Linked DNA regions of Homo sapiens: region 1 is linked to region 2. The links come from fine-mapping of genetic effects on gene expression. A gene starts in region 2. The other region holds a variant in brackets. All regions are shown on one strand. Distances are between the middles of the regions. Region 1 overlaps LCMT1 (leucine carboxyl methyltransferase 1). Region 2 holds the start of AQP8 (aquaporin 8).

The links. PIP is the estimated chance that this variant, and not a neighbour inherited with it, causes the effect. A credible set is the group of variants that fine-mapping cannot tell apart.
Region 1: its variant is the best candidate, but not a certain one, in a credible set for the expression of AQP8 in whole blood (TOPMed, PIP 0.65).

What each region holds. Positions count from the first base shown.
Region 1 is chr16:25,174,235-25,184,671 of GRCh38, reverse strand. LCMT1 (leucine carboxyl methyltransferase 1) reads right to left here. Exons shown (of 11, transcript NM_016309.3): 10 at 9,638-9,735; 11 at 6,444-6,671. The coding sequence ends at 6,649. Among named protein-coding and RNA genes, the nearest start is that of LCMT1-AS2, 30 kb to the right of the region's middle. The variant T/G (reference allele first, on the strand shown) is at 6,454.
Region 2 is chr16:25,211,904-25,222,343 of GRCh38, reverse strand. It overlaps AQP8 (aquaporin 8), which reads right to left and starts at 5,397. Exons shown (of 6, transcript NM_001169.3): 1 at 5,287-5,397; 2 at 4,899-5,146; 3 at 761-887. The coding sequence starts at 5,298.

The DNA.
Region 1 (10,437 bases), 38 kb after region 2:
GCCACCATACACAACCTGACCATATAAAAAAACCCACAGCTAATATCATACTCAACAACGAAAGACTAAAAGCTTTTTCTCCAATAGCAGGCATAAGACAAGGATGTCCACTTTTTACTACTTCTATTCAATATCGGATTGAAGGTAGACAGAGAAATTGTGCAAGAAAAACAAAGAGAAGGCATCCAAAATGGCACAGAAGTAACATTATGTCTGTCATGATCTTATATATAAGAAATCCAGGCCGGGCGTGGTGGCTCACGCCTATAATTCCAGCACCTTGGGAGGCTAAGGCAAGCAGATCACCTGAGGTCAGGAGTTCGAGACCAGTCTGGCCAACATGGTGAAACCCCGTCTCTACTGGAAATACAAAAATTAGCTGGGTGCGGTGTTGTGCACCTGTAGTCCCAGCTACTCGGGAGGCTGAGGCAGGAGAATCGCTTGAGCCTGGGAGGCGGAGGTTGCAGTGAGCAGAGATCGCACCATTGTACTCCAGCCTGGGCAACAAGAGCAAGACTCCATCTCAAAAAAAAAAAAAAAGAAAAAGAAAAAGAAAAGAAAAGAAAAGAAAAAAAGAACAAATATTGTTCTTTCGAAAGATTTCACGTACAGGAATATCTGAGAGATATTGCAGGTTTAGTTCCAGATCATCTCAATAAAGTGAATATCACATGAATTTTTTGGTTTCCCAGTGCATATAAATGTTATGTTTATGCTATACTGTATTCTATTACGTGTGCAATAGTATTATGTCTTTAAGATGTGCATGCCTTACTTTAAAAATACGTTATTGCTTTAAAAATGCTAATGATCATCTGAGCCTTCAGCAAGTCATCATCATTTGGCTGGTGGAGAGTCTTGCTTTGATGTTGATGGTTGCTGGTTGAGCAGGGTGGTGGTTACTGAAAGATCAGTGAATGGCTGTGCAGACAACAATGAAGTTTGCCTCATTGGTTGACTCTTCCTTTCCCGAAAGATTTCTGTGGCGAGAGAGGCTGTTTTACAGCATTTTACTCACAGTAGAACTTCTTTCAAAATTGGAGTCATTCCTTTTAAACTTTGCTGCTGCTTTATCAACTAAATTTGTGTAACATCTTAAATCCCTTATTGTCATTTCAACAATGTTCACAGCATCTTCAAGGATGTAGGAGTAGATTCTATCTCAAGAAACCACTTTCTCTGCTCATTCATAAGTAGCAATTCCTCATCCGTTGAAGTCTGATCATGAGATTGCAGCAATTCAGTCACATCTTTATGCTCCATTCCTAATTCTAGTTACCTTGCTATTTCCACCACATCTGCAATTCCTTCCTCTACTGAAGTCTTAAATGCCTCAAAATCATCCATGAGGGCTGGAATCAACTTCATCCAAACCCATTAAGGTTGATATTTCGACCTCCTCCCATGCATTACTAATTTTTTTTTTTTTTTTTTTTTTGAGACGGAGTCTAGCTCTGTGGCCCAGGCTGGAGCGCAATGGCGTGATCTCGGCTCACTGCAACCTCCGCCTCCCGGGCTCAAGCAATTCTCCTGCCTCAGCCTCCTCAATAGCTGGGATTACAGGCATGTCCCACCACACCCGGCTAATTTTTGCATTTTTAGTAGAGAAGGGGGTTTCACCATGTTGGCCAGGCTGGTCTTGAACTCCTGACCTCAAATGATTTGCCCATCTCGGCCTCCCAAAGTGCTGGGGTTACAGGCATGAGCCACCGTGCTCGGCTACTAATGTTCTTAATGGCATCTAGAATGGTGAATCCTTTTCAGAAGGTTTCCAATGTACTTTACCCAGATCCATCAGAGAAATCACTACCTATGGTGGCTACAGCCTTACAAAATGTATTTCATTATTATTTTTTTTTTTTTTGAGATGGAGTCTCACTCTGTCGCCCAGGCTGGAGTGCAGTGGCGTGATCTTGGCTCACTGCAACCTCTGCCTCCCAAGTTCAAGCGATTCTCCTGCCTCAGCCTCCCAAGTAGCTGGGACTACTGCCGCCCGCCACTGCGCCGGGTTAATTTATGTATTTTTAGTAGAGACGGGGTTTCACCATATTGGCCAGGCTGGTCTGGAACTCTTGACCTTGTGATCCACCCACCTCGGCCTCCCAAAGTGCTGGGATTACAAGCGTGAGCCACTGCACCTGGCCTTACAAAATACATTTCTAAATAGTAAGACTTGAAAGTCAAAATTACTCCTTGATCCGTGGGGCTGCAGAATGAATGTTGTGTCAGCATGCATGAAAACAGCATTCATCGCCTTGCACATCTCTGTCAGAGTTCTTTGGTGACCAGGTGCACTGTCAATAAGCAATAATATTTTGAAAGTAATTTTTTTTCTCAGTAGTAGGTGTCAACAATGGCCTTAAAATACTCAGTAAACCACACCGTAATCAGATGTGCTGTCACCTGGGCTTTGTTGTTCCATTTCTATAGCACACAGATTTGGCACCTTTTTTTTTTTTTTTTGAGACAGAGTCTCACTCTGTCACACAAACCGGAGTGCAGTGGCACAATCTTGCTTCAGTGCAACTTCCACCTCCCAGGTTCAAGCAATCCTCGTGCCTCAGCCTCCCAAGTAGCTGGGACTACAGGCATGCACCACCACACCCAGCTAATTTTTGTATTTTTTAGTAAAGATGGGGTTTCACCATGTTGGCTCGGCTAGTTTCGAACTCCTGGCCTCAAGCAATCCGCCTGCCTTGGCATGACCCACTGCACCCAGTGGATTTAGCATAATTCTTAAGGGCCCTAGGATTTTCAGAATGGTAAATAAGCACTGACCTTAACTTAATGTCACCAGCTGCATTTCATACTAGACACTAAGAAGTCAGGCTTTCCTATGAAGTTTTGAAGCCAGGCATTGAATTCTCCTCTCTAGCTTTGGAAGTCCTAGATGGCATCCTCTTGCAAGAGAAAGCTGTTTTGCCTACATTGAAAATCTGTTGTTTAGTGTAGCCACCTTCCTTCATCAATGATCTCAGCTGGATCTTCTGGACAACTTGCTTCAGTTTCTCCATCAGCACCTGCTGCTTCACCTTGCACTTTTATGTTATGGAGACGGCTTCTTTCCTTAAACCTCAGGAACCAACCTCTGCTAGCTTCCAACTTTTCTTCTGCAGCTTCCTCTCCTCTCTCAGCCATCACATAATTGAAGAGAGTTAGGGCCCTGCTCTCGATTAGGCTTTGGCTTAAGGGAAGGTTGTGGCTGGTTTGATCTTCTATACAGACCGCTCAAACTTTCTCCATATCGGTAATAATACAGTTTCGCTTTCTTATCATTCATGTGTTCACTGGAGTAGCACTTTTTCATTTCCTCCAAGAACTTTTCCTTTGCATTCACAACTTGGCTGTTTGGCACAAGAGGTCTAGCTTTCGGCCTATTTCAGTTTTTTTTTTTTTTTTTTTTTTTTTCAGATGGAGTCTCACTCTGTCACCCAGGCTGGAGTGCAGTGGTGCCATCTTCGCTCACTGCAACCTCTGCCTCCCAGGTTCAAGCGATTCTCCTGCCTCAAACTCCCAAGTAGCTGGGACTACAGGCGCCTGCCACCACACCAGGCTAATTTTTGTACTTTTAGTAGAGATGAGGTTTCACTATGTTGGCCAGGCTGGTCTCAAACTCCTGACCTCAGGTGATCCGCCCACCTCGGCCTCCCAAAGTGCTGGGATTACAGGCATGAGCCACCACAGCCGACCCTATTTCAGCTTTTGACGTGCCTTCCTCACCAAGCTTAATCATTTCCAGCTTTGATTTAAAGTGAAAGGCATGTGACTCTTTGTGACTCTTCCTTTCACTTGAGCATGTAGAGGCCATTGTAGGGTTATTAACTGGCCTAATTTCAATATCAAATTTGGAATAGGACGGATGGGAGGATCACTTGAACCCGAGTTCAAGACCACCCCTGGCAACATAGGGAGACCCTGTCTCCACAAAAAAAGTTAAAAATAGCCAGGCTTGCTGGTGTGTGCCTGTGGTTCAGTTACTCAGGAGGCTGAGGAAGGAGGATCACTTGAGCCCAAGGAGGTTGAGGCTGCAGAGAGCTATGACTGCACTACTGCACTCCAGCCTGGGAGATGGGGCAAGACCCTTTCTGAAAACAACAACAACAAAAAGTAAACATTGTGGGGCCAGGCACGGCGGCTCACGCCTGTAATCCCAGCACTTTGGGAGGCCGAGGCAGGTGGATCACGAGGTCAGGAGATAGAGACCATCCTGCCTAACGTGGTGAAACTCCATCTCTACTAAAAACACAAAAAAAATTAGCTGGGCATGGTGGCGGGCTCCTGTAGTCCCAGCTACTTGGGAAGCTGGGGCAGGAGAATGGCGTGAATCCGGGAGGTGGAGCTTGCAGTGAGCTGAGATCGCGCCACTGCACTCCAGGCTAGGTGACAGAGCAAGACTCCGTCTCAATAAAAAAAGTAAACATTGTTTCTGCTAATGCTATACATATACCAGAGTTACCCCTTTCCTGTGGTTTTGTTTTCCAAGGTTTCCGTTACCTGAGGTCAGTTGAGGTCCAAAAATAAGTGAGTATAGCTAAGATATTTTCTTTTTTTCCAAGATGGAGTCTTGCTCTGTCATCCAGGCTGGAGTGCAGTGGCGCAATCTCGGTTCACTGCAACCTCTGCCTCCTGGGTTCAAGCAATTCTCCTGCCTTACAGATGCCTGCCACCAAGCCCGGATTTTTTTTTTTTTTTTTTTGTATTTTTAGTAGAGACAGGGTTTCACCATGTTGGCCAGGCTGGTCTTGAACTCCTGACCTTGTGATCTGCCCATCTCAGCCCCCCAAAGAGCTGGAATTACAGGCGGCGGGGCGGTGGGGGGGGGGTTTCACCATGTTGGCCAGGCTGGTCTCGAACTCCTGACTTCAGGATCCACCTGTCTTGGCCTCCCCAAGTGCTGGGATTACAGGCGTGCACCACTGCACTCGGCCAGTTAAGATATCTTCAAAGACCACATTCACATAACCTTAACATATTGCTATAGTTGTTCTTTTTTAAATTGTTGCTAGTCTTACTGCACCTAATTTATACATTTTATCACAGGTATTTATTGATAGGAACACATCCCATCAACTGGCATGCCACTAGAGGTGCAGGGCCCACACTCTAGGGGACACTGATTTAAGGATTCTGAATGGTAGAAGAGAGGCTGTTACCTCTCCAGCAGAGGAGAGCGCTGGGGACTTCTGCAGTGCCACCCTGCACATGCAGGTTCAGGCTCGCAGCGCCAGTCACATAACTTAAGAAGTCCCTGTAGACAAGGTCTACCCATCACTCAGGGAGTTCAGCAGACAGGTATGGGACAAGCCTTATGTTTCTGAAATATGAGGTCATCACTCAGGGGCCCTATGAACCTGTCTCATAACTGCATTGACTTCTAGTTGTGGCTGTAAGTTTAAGCCCCCAACTTGGTGGCTCAAAACACCACAGATCAGTCTGGGCACAGAGGCTCATGCCTGTAATCCCAGCACTTTGGGAGGCCAAGACGGGCGGATCACTTGAGGTCAGGAGTTCGTGACCAGCCTGGCCAACATGGTGAAACTCTATCTCCACTAAAAATACAAAAATTAGACAGGCATGATGGTATGCACCTGTAATCCCAGCTACTTGGGAGGCTGAGGCGGAAGAATCACTTGAACCCGGGAGGCAGAGGGTGCAGTGAGCCGAGATCGCGCCACTGCACTCCAAGCCTGGGCAACAGAGCAAGACTCCATCTAAAAAAAAGAAAAAAAAAAAAAAAAAACCACCACCACAGATGTATTCTCTTACGGCTCTGGAGGTGAGAAATCTGAAATCGATTTCTCTGGGCTAACATCAAGGTGTTGGCAGGCAGTTCCAGCTGGAGGCCAAGGGAGGGTCTGCTGCTATTGCCCTAGGTAGCATCCCCTGGTTGCCCCTGCTTCTTGTCTGGGCCCCTCTGACTCTGACGCCTCGTCTGTCCCTCTAATGAGGACCCCGTGATCCTATCAGGCCCACCTGGATAACCCAGGACCACCTCTTCATCTCAAACCCCTAATCCCATTTGCAAAGCCCCTTTGCCACAGAAGGTAACACACACTCACAGGTTCTGGGGATCAGGACATGGACACTTTAGGGGCCATTCTTCAGCCTGCCACCATGACCAAGATGAAGGAGGCAACTGAGCAGGCCAGTGTGGCCAGGGCGGAGACAGGAGCCCGAGAAGAGCACTAGCCTCACATCTGGTGGAGGACAAGGGTCAGGGAGTGAGGCACAATGTCATGTGCTGCAACAAACAGCATGTGAGGGAGTAGATCCTAAAATGGACTCAAGGTCATGGGCCGGGTGTGACTCACAGGGAGTAAGCCAAGGTCAAAGCAGACTTGGGGTCCTTGGCTTTAGCTAACACAGAGGTGAACCCTGGCCCGCCCAAGCCATGGGGCACGGAACGAGCAGCGGCAGCCAGCAGAGGTCCAACCACAGGCGACTGGTGGCAAG[T/G]GAGATTTATTTAAACAACGACATGTCAACAGGAACAGGAAGAGGAACATGTGCGACCACTGTAGTGACCAAGGCTTCTCAAGAGTGTGGGATGAGACCTGCGGACGAGGCCCGCCCACCGCTCAGGGAGCTTGCAGGTCTCCTCCAGGAGGGCAAGTGGCTTCGGCTTCTGGCTCGGCATAAGCCTTCGACAGATTAATAAGTTATCTCCTTCAGCCCTGAGGGGAGAGACACACAGACACCATTAGGAGACTCTGGTGGCCAGGAGCAGAGGCCCCTAGAGGACCCCCAGTGACCGGCTCAGGGGCACCAGCCACACTGCTGACCACTGTAGCACCGCCCTCCTGCTACATAAAATGAGGTTTCGCAAGGAAACAAAAGGTTGGGTAAGACTGTGTTTATGGGTGGTTTTAAAATGATTAAGAAAACATTATAACAGTTTATGGACTGTCTGCAGTTAACGCCAAAAATCTACCCTTTATGTGCTGAACTTTGAGCAAAGGCAGATACGGATCTTCCACACACACAGACAAGCACTGATGTCCCAAAGCAGTCACGGGTCAGTGGGGACAAAGTAAATTCCTGACATTAAAATGCTCAATATATTGTTCCTTTGTGAGAACTAGAGTTCACTTAAAAGTATTACAAATAACCTACATTTCCAAAAATATGGAAATATTAATTCAGCCATAGTGACATAATACAATATTATAAAGCCATTACAATTATGCTCATTGAGCATTTTTAATTGCCAGGGGGAAATGCTAATGTTATAACATTAAATTGAAAACACTTGAAATCAAAGTTGCATAAATATAAAAATTCAACTCTTATTATAAAAACAAACAAAACACTATTTAGAAATAGAGGGGAAGGGAAAAGTCACAAGAGGTCATCTCTGACTGACAGGCATACAGGTGGATTTTCTTAGTCATACTTTTTAGAAGCTTTTAAGTTTCCTACTAAGAAGTATTTTTTAATATAATTAAGAGGAGGATAACATACAAATACCCCAATAAGTGACTTTTTTTTTTTTCTGGAGACAGAGTCGCGCTCTGTTGCCCAGGCTGGAGTACAGTGGTGCCATCTCAGCTCACTGCAACTTCTGCCTCCCGGGTTCAAGAGATTCTCCTGCCTCAGCCTCCCAAGTAGCTGGGACTACAGGCATGTGCCACCACGCCCAGCTAAATTTTGTATTTTTAGTAGAGACGGGATTTCACCATGTTGGCCAGGCTGGTTTCGAACTCCTGACCTCAGGTGATCTGCCTGCCTTAGCCTCCCAAAGTGCTGGGATTACAGGCATGAGCCACTGCGCTCAATTCACAATAAATGACTTTAAATCCAAAAGGAATGTGAAGGCCAGGCACAATGGCTCATGCCTATAATCCCAGCACTTTGGGGGGCCGAGCCAGGCAGATCACTTAAGGTCAGGAGTTCGAGACCAGCCTGGCCAACATGGTGAAACCCCATCTCTACCAAAAATACAGAAATTAGCTGGACATGGTGGTGGACGCCTGTAATCCCAGCTACTCAGGAGGCTGAGGCAGGAGAATCACTTGAACCCAGGAGGCGGAGGTTGCAGTGAGACGAGATCATGCTACTGCACTCCAGCCTGGACAATGAGCAAGACTCCATCTCAAAAAAAAAAAAAAAAAAAAAAAAAAAAAAGCCAAAAAAAAACAAAAACCAAAACCAAACAAAACAAATGTGAAAGGATTGTGTGGGCTGAGCTGCATAGCTAGGCAAATCTGTGTGGAATGACAGGTCCAAAGGGGCTGATTATCAGTCTCATGTCAACCTGGAATTTTTGCATAGGGAATGGTCCTTGCCTCTGTCAAGTTCTGTTTCGGATCAGCTGCCCGCTTGTGACCACATGTCATGTGGATTACATCTGCGGGAAGCTTGAAGGGCAGCTATTCCACTGAAGGCCGGAACTGGGATCTAAAGTGGCCTCCATCGGGCTGGAGAGACACTCAAAGCCTAACCACTGGGGGAGGCAAGCCCAGCAGGGGGCAGCTGAAAAGGAGCTGGACCAGGACAAAGGTAACAAGAAACAGAGATAGATCCACGCCTGTTCTCCGTGGCCCTACTCGGCCACAGACAGGCATGTGCACCTTAATGAGAAGAGGGAAAATTCAGCCCCTAGCTGCATGGGTTTGTAAGCAAGATGTACTGATCTGTGCGTTTAACATCCAGTGAACCTGGTTGTAAGTGGATGGAAAAGACAAACGCCGGTTACTTTTCTAGAGATTTTTAAACTCTCAAGCTCTTTTACCTTCCAGCTGTGGGAACTCCACAGTACATCTCTCAAGGGTTGTTTTGGGCTACAAGGCTTAAACAGTTCTCTTGGTTTTTGTGCTATAAAAGCACAAAAGATATAACAGCAAGTTCTCTGGATATGCTCACGGATACATGTACATCATCCTCTAGTTCTTTCTGGGCCCAAAGTTCCAAATACATCTTTCATTTTGGGAAGAAGAAAAGTTCCGGCCAGGCACAGTGGCTCATGCCTGTAATCCCAGCACTTTGGGAAGCTGAGGCAAGAGGATTGCTTGAGGCCAGGAATTCTTTATTTATTTATTTTTTGAGACAGGGTTTCGCTCTTCTTGCCCGGGCTGGAGTGCAATGGTGCAGTCTCGGCTCACTGCAACCTCCACCTCCCAGGTACAAGTGATTCTCCTGCCTCAGCCTCCCAAGTAGCTGGGATTACAGGTGCCTGCCACCACGCCTGGCTATTTTTTTTTTTTTTGTATTTTTAGTAGAGACGGGGTTTCATCATGTTGGCCAGGCTGGTCTCAAACTCCTGACCTCAAGTGATCTGCCCACCTCAGCCTCCCAAAGTGCTGGGATTACAGGTGTGAGACCCCGCGCCCAGCCTACTTGAGGCTAGGAATTCAAGACCAGCCTTAGAGAGACCTCTACAGAAAATTAGCCAGGCTCCTGTAGTCCCAGCTACTCAGGAGGCAGGAGGATCACTTGAGCCCAGGAATTGAAGGCTGCAATGAGCTATGACCGTGCCACTGCACTCTAGCCTGGGTGACAGAGCGAGACCCTGTCTCAAAACAAGAAAGAAGGGACAGAGAGAGAAAGAGGGAAGACAAAAAACAGAAAGAGAAAGGGAAAGAATAGGAAAAAGAAAAGTTCACTATTTCCAGGTCAAGGCAAGAAAAGTACAATCACGCACCAAGCTCATTTCCTCCTTTGGTTGCCCAGCAAAGGCAGTAATGCCGCATGAGCTGCTCCAGCAGCTCCATTTCATCCAGGAATTCAAGTGATTCTATCCTGTGGAAAGAATTAAAATAGAACGATGCAAGTGTCTGCATTGAAAATGAAGATCATGGCCCATAGCTACGGATATGAAAAAATGTTTATGATAGATTAAGTGGAAAGAAGGCGGCTATAAAATAGTAATTATGGTGTGGCTCCATTTTAATGTCTTTTCACTGAAAAGAAGAAAAAATACCATAAACAAAGTCAAAATACAAATGCCAAACTAGAAACATATATTTGCAATTCAAGTGGCAAAGGGCTGAGTTCCTTATTATATAAAGAGCTGTTAAACTTCAGTAAGAAAAACTAGTGGCAACTGGAGGAGACAGGCAGAGTAAATTGAAGCAGATTCATACTGTCAAAACAGGACACTATGCAGCCATTTTTAAAAATGGGGTAGGTCCATACGTATTAATATGCAATAACCTCCAAGACATATATATCATGGAATTTAAAAAGCAAGTTGCGTAATTTAAAAAGCAAGTAATGTGCATATTACACCACTCTCTATGTAAAGAAAAAGTGAGACAAATTTGTCTGTATATGTACAGACTTTTGGAAAATACAGAAGAAACTAGAAATGGTAGTTGTCTCTTAAGAGAGAAGGTAGTAGACCAGTAGTGAGGAGGGTTGTTTTTACTCTATACTACTTCATTTTGGTTTTGTAAAAAATTATATGCATGTATGACTTTTCCCAAAAAGCCTTTTAAATGT
Region 2 (10,440 bases):
TTGGGTGTTTCTCACAGAGGGGGATTTGGCAGGGTCATAGGACAATAGTGGAGGGAAGGTCAGCAGATAAACAAGTGAACAAAGGTCTCTGGTTTTCCTAGGCAGAGGAAATTAGTTGGGTGTGGTGACACACACCTGTAGTCCCAGCTACTCAAGAGGCTGAGGCAGGAGGATCACTTGAGCCCAGGAGGTCGAGCCTGCAGTGAGCTATGATTGCACCACCACACTCCAGCCTGGACAACAGAGTGAGACCCTATCTCTAAAATAAAAAAGAGAGGCCGGGCACAGTGGCTCATGCCTGTAACCCCAGCACTTTGGGAGACCAAGGCAGGTAGATCACTTGAGCTCAGTAGTTCAAGACCAGCCTGGCCAACATGATGAAACCCCGTCTCTACTAAAAATACAAAAATTAGCTGGGCATGGTGGCATGCGCCTGTAATCCCAGTTACTCAGGAGGCTGAGGTGGGAGAATTGCTTGAGCCCAGGAGGCAGAGGTTGCAGTGAGCCAAGATCAGGCCACTGCACTCCAGCCTGGGTGACAGAGCAAGACTCCATCTCAAAAAAACAAACAAATAAAAAATACAATAAAATGCAATAAGAAAGAAAGAGAGAAGAAAAACGTCCACCAATTCCACTGGCAGAAACAAGCAAAAGATTGGACATTTCCCCACTCCCCACTGTCCCACACACACACCCACATATGCACCTCCAGCAGCCCCATCAGAGAGGAAGACTAGCCCAGCCCCTGGGGTTTACCCACCTTGGCCAAGGCAGCCCCGAGCATCCCCCCGAGCAGCTGTGAGACCCAGTACGGGAGGAGCATCACCAGGTTGAGGCCTCCGATCAGCATGGCTGCCAGGGACACCGCAGGGTTGAAGTGTCCACCACTGTAACCCACAAGAGCAGAGGAAGTCATGAGCCCAGGGCTGACCACATGGCTGGCACTTGAGACAGTGTGTCCCAGCCAACCCACCAGGCTGGCCTCTCAGGGCAAGAGTCAGTCCGGGGCCCAGCTCAAATACAAAGAGGCACCAAATTGCTTCCATTTTCCCTGAGATGCCAGGCAGAGGGTAAGAGATAAAGGGCAGCCTCTAAGTCCAAAGCCCAGCCCCCAGGATGGCCCTGGAGGAAGAGCGTGTAGGGAGACCATCCCTTAACTCCTCCCTGACTCCCTCCAAGCCTCCCTCCAGCCCTTCAGAGATGTGGCCACAGGTCAGATTGAGATACCAAGGCTCCAAGTTAGTAGCCCAAGAGCGGTATCCAGGCCTCCCCTTATGATTTGTTTGATTTTACGAGACGGAGTCTTGCTCTGTCGCGCGGGCTGCAGTGCAATGGTGTGATCTCGGCTCACTGCAGCTTCCACCTTTTGAGTTCAAGCAATTCTTCTGACTCAGCCTCCTAAGTAGCTGGAACTACAGGTGTGTGCCACCACGCCTGGCTTATTTTTGTATTTTTAGTAGAGACGAGGTTTCACCATGTTGGTCAGGCTGGTCTCAAACTCCTGACCTCAAGCGATCCACCCACGTCGGCCTCCCAAAGTGCTGGGGTTACAGGCACGAGCTACCGTGCCCGGCCCGGGTCTCCCTTTATGAGTAGCTAGGCCCTGAATAAGACCTCCTGATTGGTTGAACTGCTCAGCCAGTGAAAACCCTACTTGTGGTCTGAAAGTGTGATGGGTGTAAAATGCAGATTTGGAGTTCAGGCTGAAAATGGCATTGAGAATCACGGGGTGGAGTTGGAGGTTCATGACCAGGTTAGGGATTGGGATTGGGAGTTTGGGGTGTGGAAGGGAATTAGACAAGTCAGAACCTGAGGTCAAAGGGCAGGTTGCAGTTGATCAGCCACCCCCTGGCTCATGGGTAAAGAGCCTTCGTGTTCACCAAGATGTTCAACCAGCCCAGGCCCCAGAGCCAGGGTGGCTGCACTCACATCAGTGTCCCAACCAGTCCCACTCTGATGGAGGAAATATTGTCACAGTTTGGCCTCCTGAATCCATCTGGTTTCCAGGAATGGATACTCCCCAATGAGAGAGAAAGGGACCCCAAGACTCCCCATGTCACTTGAGAACCAAAGTGCCCCCCTAATGTAAAGAGCCCACCAATGAGCTTACCCATCCTCCAAAGGACATAGGACATTCAGTTGAGACTGGGCAGAGGACCTCAGCTCTGCCCAAAAGGACTTTGTCCAACACCCTGATAGCTCGAGACCAGCTACCCCAACTTGTCTGGCTCAGCTCTGGGCCCAGGCCCTCAGATAAGCTCCATGCACGGTTTGATTTGATTTGTTTTTTGTTTTTTGTTTTTTTTTTTGAGACAGGGTCTCCCTTTGTCACCCAGGCTGGAGTGCAATGGTGCAATCTCGGCTCACTGCAACCTCCGCCTCCTGGTTTCAAGCGATTCTTCTGCTTCAGCCTCCCAAGTAGATGGGATAACGGGGCTGCCACCACGCCCGGCTAATTTTTGTATTTTTGGTAGAGACGGGGTTTCACCATGTTGGCCAGGTTGGTCTCGAACTCCTGACCTCAGGTGATTCACCTGCCTCGGCCTCCCAAAGTGCTGGGATTACAGGCGTGAGCCACTGCGCCTGACCTCCATGCATGGTTTGAAAGCACCAGCCAGTGCTCAGACTCCACAGGTTGGGAAGAGGGGCAGCCAGGCCTACTTGGCCTCAAGTAGCTTAGCCTGGGCTCTGCTGAGATACACAGATGAAGTCAGGGTGAGGCGGCTTCCCAGGGGAGCCCCAAAGGGGAGAGAAACTGTCACCCAGAGCATGGCTCTATCAGGAGGGCCAGGTGACGAAAACCACACATTTCCTGGTTTACACTCATTAGCAATAAAACAATCAAGACACATTCATTCATTCATTCATTGTTCACTCAGCATATATTTCTCTGACACTTACTGTGTGCCAGGGGCTGTGCTGGGTGCTTATAACTTACATACATAGCTTATCCTGGATCCAGTGAACAACCTCAAAGTCAGTGTCTGGCACGCAATAGGTGCTGAATAAATATTTGTCAAAAAAGCCAAACAGAGAGGCAGTATTTGCAGTGCCAAAGAGATGGTCTTTCCAGCCAGCTGGCCTGGGTTCAAAGCTCAACTCTGCCACTGAAGAGCTGTGTGGCATTGGCAAAGTTACATAACCTCTCTGTGCCTCAATGATCTCTGCCTGATAAAGCTATTGCAAAGATATTAAGAATTAATATTTGTACAGCCCATAGTAGTATCTATGTAGTTAGCATTCAAAAAACATCAGCTATTATTATTACTCATATTTATACCACTGCACACAGAGGCTTCAGCAACTTGCTGTGGTCACCCTGCTAAGAAGTGATAAAGGTTGCCTTCAATCTCAGATCCGTCCAAAGGGAAGATCATGTACTTTTTGTTTCACTTGCAGCCTCCCTTGGACGTCTAAAGAGATGTGGTTTGTTTTTTGTTTGTTTGTTTGTTTGTTTGTTTTTTGGAGATGGAGTCTCACTCTGTTGCCCAGGCTGGAGTGCAGTGGCACAATCTCGGCTCACTGCAACCTCTCCCTCCCAGTTCAAGCAATTCTCCTGCCTCAGCCTCCGAAGTAGCTGGGACCACAGGTGCCTGCCCCCACGCCCAGCTAATTTTTGTATCTTTAGTAGAGACAGGGTTTCACCCTGTTGGCCAGGCTGCTCTCCAACTCCTGACCTCAGGTGATCCACCCGCCTCAGCCTCCCAAAGTGCTGGGATTACAGGCGTGAGCCACTGCACCCGGCCTAAAGAGATGTTAAAGCTCTTTTCCATTCTGGTTTTCTCAGAAATAGTATTTCTGTTTCCTCATTCAGATCTATTTTTTGAGTGAGATTTAATACAGACCAACCATGTCCCAGATCACCCTGCCAGGCACCCCACTCAAGATCTTCGTCGTGATGGCTGGCTCTCCTGGGAACCAGCAGCCATGTCCACAGACCTCCCCATTGAGCCTCTACCCAGACGAGAGCTAAGCCAGAGAAGCCTGTCCCTTTCCCTGCCCCTCCTTCTTGATCACCTCTTGACAAGCCAGGACCACTGCAGATCTCTGCATACCCAGGTGGGAAAACCTGGCTCAGGTCTTCTATGCATTTCTGCTTTCCCTAAAACCCCCTTCTAGTGGTAACAATAACACAGCAACCAATGCCTGTTGTATGTTTGGTGTGTGCCAGGCGCTCTACTTCATTTAATTCTCATGACTTCCGCATGAGGCACTTGGATTTGAGCGCTGGAGCCAGACAGCTTGTTCTTGACTCCCGCCTCTGCCACTTTCTGGCCCTCTAAGCTTGGACAGATTACATGGCCTTTCACTTTTGCAGCTGTACAATGGGGCTAATAACAGGACCTACCCCACAAGGCTTTTGTGAGGATTAAATAACTAATATCTATAAAGTAATTAGACTAGTGCCTGGTACATGGTTAGCAATATAGATATGTTGGCTTGAAAAAAAAAACATTTAAAAGCTACTATTCCCATTTTATAGGCGGGGAACTTTGGGTTTAGAGAGTAACTTGCCAGCCAGGCATGGTGTCTCATGCCTGTAATCCCAAAACTTTGGGAAGCCAAGGCAGGAGGATCGCTTGAGACCAGGAGTTCAAGACTAGCCTGGGCAACATAGTGAGACCCCATCTCTACAACAAAATTTAAAAATTAGTTGGGTGCTGCGGCGCATGCCTGTGATCCAGCTACTCAAAAAGAGAATGACTTGCTCAAAGTCACAAGCTCACAGGCTGCGGGGTCTGGAGTTGACCCCAGTCTGACTCCCAACCCCATAGTTATCCAGAGCGCTCCTTGAAATCCCGAATACGTATGCGCCCAGGGGTCCTTGACAACGCCTTTGCTTTCCACACCCAGTGCCCCAAGTCAGCATCAGGCTGAATCCTCAGAGCTGGTCTCACCTGATATTCCCCAGCGTGGCAATCACGAGCCCCAAAGCCAGCCCGTGGGCCAGGGCCGGCTGCAGCAGCCCAGTGTCCGTCCCATTCTCAATGACCGACAGGCACCCGATGAAGATGAAGAGAGCAGAGCCCAGCAGTTCGACCAGACATGGCTGCACAAACCGTTCGTACCAGGACACTCGCCACCTGCCACCCACGCTCGGCTCCCTGGCCTTGTCATTGCCAAATTCAGGCTCACACATGGCTATCTGCCGTAGGGAAAAAGGGACAGAGGACACGGGTGGGAGGCAAGTCCAGATATAGAAGGCCCCGACCCCCAACCTTGAATTAATTCACAGCCCCCCTTGCTCTGCCAGCCTGGAGAGGAAGATGCCGACAGAGGGCTCACCTCTCCAGACATCAGGATCAGATGGCACAAACATCGGACTCTTGCCTGAGCTGCTGGGAAACCTGCACCTGCTGTGCAAGATACTCTTATCTCCTAGGGACAGGACCTGCTGATCACACTATGGGCTCTGCCCCTTTTAAAGGGCTGCAGAGGCTCAATGCTGGTGCAGAGAAAGCAATAAACCTCAGGTAGGAGGCGGCTCTGAGGCCCAGAAGAGGAAATTTTTTTAAATCTCAACAGGGCAGGGTGAGGGAGTCAGGGATTGCTGAACTTTCCGCCAGTGAGGGAAAAACACGCCAGCTTGGCTGTGTCATCTGGGAGCACACTCCAGGCTGTAGAAGGTGGGAGATGGGTCCAGCACCCCAGCTCCCCACGGTCCAAAGCAGAACAGCACATGTTAGTGGGCCCCACTGGGTTGGAACCTCACATGTTAAGAAACAGCAAACAGCCAGGTGCAGTGGCTCACGCCTGTAATCCCAGCACTTTGGGAGGCCGAGGCAGGTGGATCACGAGGTCAGGAGATTGAGACCATCCTGGCTAACACGGTGAAACCCCGTCTCTACTAAAAATACAAAACTCAGCCGGGCGTGGTGGTGCACGCCTGTAATCCCAGCTACTTGGGGGGCTAAGGCAGGAAAATCATTTGAACCTGGGAGACGAAGATTGCGCAGAGCCAAGATTGTGCAACTGCACTCCAGCCTGGGCAACAGAGCAAGGCTCTGAAAAAAAAAAAAAAGGAAAGAGAAAGAAGAAAGAAAGACAGAGAAAGAAAGAAAGGAAAGAAAAGAAAGAAAGAAAGAAAGAAAGAAAGAAAGAAAGAAAGAAAGAAAGAAAGAAAGAAAAAGAAAGAAAGAAAGAAAGAAAGAAAGAAAGAAAGAAAGAAAGAAAGAAAGAAAAAGAAAGAAAAAGAAAGAAAGAAAAGAAGGAAGGAAAGAAAGAAAGAAAGAAAGAAAGAAAGAAAGAAAGAAAGAAAGAAAGAAAAAAGAAAAAGAAAGAAAAGAAGGAAGGAAGGAGAAAGAAAGAGAGGGCGTGTTGGTGTTTGCCTGTAATCCCAGCTACTCAGGAGGATGAGGCATGAGAATCACTTGAACCCAGGACCCAGAGGTTGCAGTGAGCCAAGATCGCGCCACTGCACTTCAGCCTCAGAGTGAGACCCTGTCTAAAAAAAAAAAAAAAAAAAAGAAAGAAAGAAAGAAAAAAGAAAAGAAAGAAACAGCAATCCCATTTTCAATTATTTTTCCAATGAGTCCCACAGCTTCAAACACCTGCAGTCACCGTGACAGCCTGAGCCAGGACTGAGTGTATAGATGACGATCCTTCACAGACAGAGGCAGCAGAGACTGGCAAGAGGTAATGCAATGCAGCGGCAAGACCCATGAACTTTGGAAATAGGCTGCCTGGCGTTCAATCCCAGCTCTGCTGTAAACTAGCTATGTAACCCTTGGGCACATGACTTGGCCTCTCTGGGCCTTTGTTTTCTCATCTGTTAGGTGTGGATGTTAGTGGTTTCACCATGTCATAGGGTCGTTGGGAAGTTTAAATGAGATAATACGGGTAAAGTGCTCAGGACAGTGCTAGACACACAATACCAGTGTCCACTAATTTACAATACATGCTTAGCTGTAACTAATAGCTAATAGTGAGCACTTTCTATGTGCCAGGCACTGGGGCTAAGTGCCTTCTATTATCTCATTTAAACCTCACTGCCACCCTGTGAAGCAGGTACTATTATTACAACCATTTCACAGACGAGGAAGTGGAGTGTCAGGAAGATTGAGTTTCCCAAGATTACACAGCTTATATGATCACAGAACTTGTGGGCTGTCACAAAAGGATAAATACTGTATCTGATTCCACTTGTATGAAGTACCTAGACTAGTCAAATTCATAGAGACAGAAGTAGAATGGTGGTTTCCACGGCCCGAGGGGAAGGGAGAATGAAGAGTTTGTGTTTAGCGGGTACAGATTTCCTGTTTGGGAGGAAAGTTTTGGGATGGATGATACAGTGGCACAACAATGTGAAGTACTTAATGTCACTGAAATGTACACTTAAAAATGGTTCCAAATGCTGGGTGTGCTTGGCTCACACCTGTAATCTCAGCACTTTGGGAGACCAAGGCAGGAGGATCACTTGATTTTAGGAGTTTGACACCAGTCTGGCCACATGGTGAAACCCTGTCTCTACTAAAAATACAAAAATTGGCTGGGTGTGGTGGTGCACGCCTGTAATCCCAGCTACTTGGGAAGCTGAGGCAGGAGAATCGCTTGAACCTGGGGGGCAGAGGTTGTAGTGAGCTGAGATCACACCACTACACTCCAGCCTGGGTGAGAGGATGAGACTCCATCTCAAAAAAAAAAAGGTTAAAATGGCATATTTTATTTTATGTGTATCTTGCCACAATTGAAAAAAAATACTTGTGAGCTAACCCACTACACTCTACTGCCTTTCTAAGAGAGATGGATGGATGGATGGATGGATGGATGGATGGATGGATGGATAAGTGGATGGATGGGTGGATGCATGGATGGATGGGTGGATGGATGGATGGATAGATAGATGGTTGGGTGGGTGGGTGGGTGGATGGATGGATGGATGGATGGATGGATGGATAGATGGGTGGGTGGATGGATGAATGGATGGATGGATGGATGGATGGTTGGAAAGAAGGGAAGAAAGAAAGGAAGGGAGGGAGGAAGGAAGGGAGAAAGGAAGGAGGAAGGAAAGAAAATGAGATGAGTTCCTTATTCATTCATTCACTCACCAAACATTTAAATAGCTGCTGCAAGCCAGTCACTGTTCTAAGCTGGCTGGAGATGTAGCAGTGAACAAGACAGGCAAAATCCTGCTCTGTCTCATAGCTTTATCTTTGAGTGTTTGTATGCACTGATAGAGAAGTCAAGCTAGAGCTAACGGAATTTTAATGCTCATTTCTGACATTTCTCAACTACTCACTACATCTCCAACACCATGCTAAACACTCGGTATATATTCGTAAACCCCTTTGAGATAAGTCCTATCACTTATTATCACCATCTTCAGATGATAAAAACGAGGCACAAAGAAGTTAAGAACTCACCCATGGCTGTGTACATAAAAATATCTGCTTCAGGACAGAAGTGGACATATCTAGAGAAGAGCGTGACAGTTTGTTGACAGCCCATGTCAGCGAGAGGCCCAGGAATACAGGGTCTCTGCCAAATATCTGCACCTCTAGGAAGGTTATTTTTAGCCCTGTTCTCTACCTCCTCCATATCCCACAGCACATCATACAAGATGTTTCTTAGACCCTTCCTTCCACATCCTATAAATAGCAACATAAGATAGTCTGACCCAAGGCTTCCCCATCCCCCTCATTATTTGCTCAAATCCTGCCAGTACTGCTTCCAGAATAATTCTCTCTTGTTTTCACCCATGCCTTCATCTGTTCTTGCTTAGTCCCTTGAACAAAGAAAAACTAAGCTGGATGCACTGGCTCGCACCTGTAATCCCAGCACTTTGGGAGGCCAACGCGGGCAGATCACAAGGTCAGGAGTTCAAGACCAGCCTGACCAACATGGTGAAACCCCATCTCTACCAAAAATACAAAAATTAGCTGGGCATGGTGGCACACGCCTGTAATCCCAGCTACTCAGGAGGCTGAGGCAGGAGAATCGCTTGAACCTGGAAGACGGAGGTTGCAGCGAGCCGAGATCACACCACAGCACTCCAGCCTGGGCCACAGAGCGACACTCCATCCCACCCCCCCACCCCCCAAAAAATGGATTCTTTGCTCACATAATAGTCCATGACAGGCTCGTCTCCAAATGGTGACTCAGGGATCCAGGCCACTTCCATCTTGGAGCTGCCCCATCTAGGTCCTCAGATCTTCTCCAGCAAAATGGGAAAAAGAGAATGTGGAGGGCTGTGCAGGAAATTATTATGGGCTAGGCCTAGAAATACCATATATCCCTCTCACCTATATTTGATGGGCTCAAACTCAGTCACGTGGCTTCACCTGACTGCAATCGAGCCTGGGAATTGTAGTCTAGCCCTGTGCCCAGGAGGAAAAAGAAAGGCATTTTATGAATATCGAGCAATTTCTGCCACATACTAGAAATTGTTGCTTTCCCAGAGACCATGGTTCTAGTTGAGTTTTTCCCTGAATTAAATCATTCAGTGTGTCCCATGGTTCCAAGACAAACCCAGACTCCCTTAGCTAGCCACAGAGACTTCAGTTCCTAGCCCCTGAATCATCTCTTGCCACATGAACCCTAAACAATTTATCAGATAAGCTATGTACCCTCACCCGGCCTTGTCCATGCCAGTCCCTCTGTTTGGAGTCCTTGTTTGCCCTCTTGGCCAACTTCTACTCCTCATTCAGATCTCAGATCAGATATTATGTCCTCTCTGATGCCTGGGCAAACTACCTATTGGTCCTCTAAAAACACCCTTCCCTTGCTCAAGGCAAGGTTGGATTCCATAACTCCAAAACTAGGCCAGTGCAGCGGCTCATGCCTGTAATCCCAGCACTTTGGGAGGCCAAGGCGGGTGAATCACAAGGTCAGGAGATCGAGACCATCCTGGCTAACACAGTAAAACCCCATCTCTCCTAAAAATACAAGAAATTAGCCGGGCATGGTGGCACGCGCCTGTAGTCCCAACTACTCAGGAGGCTGAGGCAGGAGAATTGCTTGAACACGGGAGGTGGAGATTGCAGTGAGCCAAGATTGCACCACTGCACTCCAGCCTTGGCAACAGAGCAAGAGTCCGTCTTAATTAAAAAAAGAAAAAAAAAAGGAAAGAAAAAGAAAACTAGTGGCTTCCAGGGAAAACCTGAATGCCATTCAGACAAAACAACATATTTCCACTACATGAGAGTTTTAGAGTATGTCCTGATGTCCTCATACACAATATACTGTCTCTCAAAACCACTGAAAAACCTAGTGGGCTAAGGAGATACTGTCTTCCTAAAAAATTCTTTGGCTGGCAAACTTCCTAGTTTTCCAAATCCAGGTCTGGTTAACAGGACCAAGGCTTCTAATCTTTATCCCTGTTTGGTTGGCAAGACTTCTCTGCATCTATACCTGTCTGCCATCCCCCACCAGGTCCAGATGGAGTGTAGAAACAGGTCACATTTTACCCTGGCATCTCACCTTTCCCTTCTCTCTTGCCTT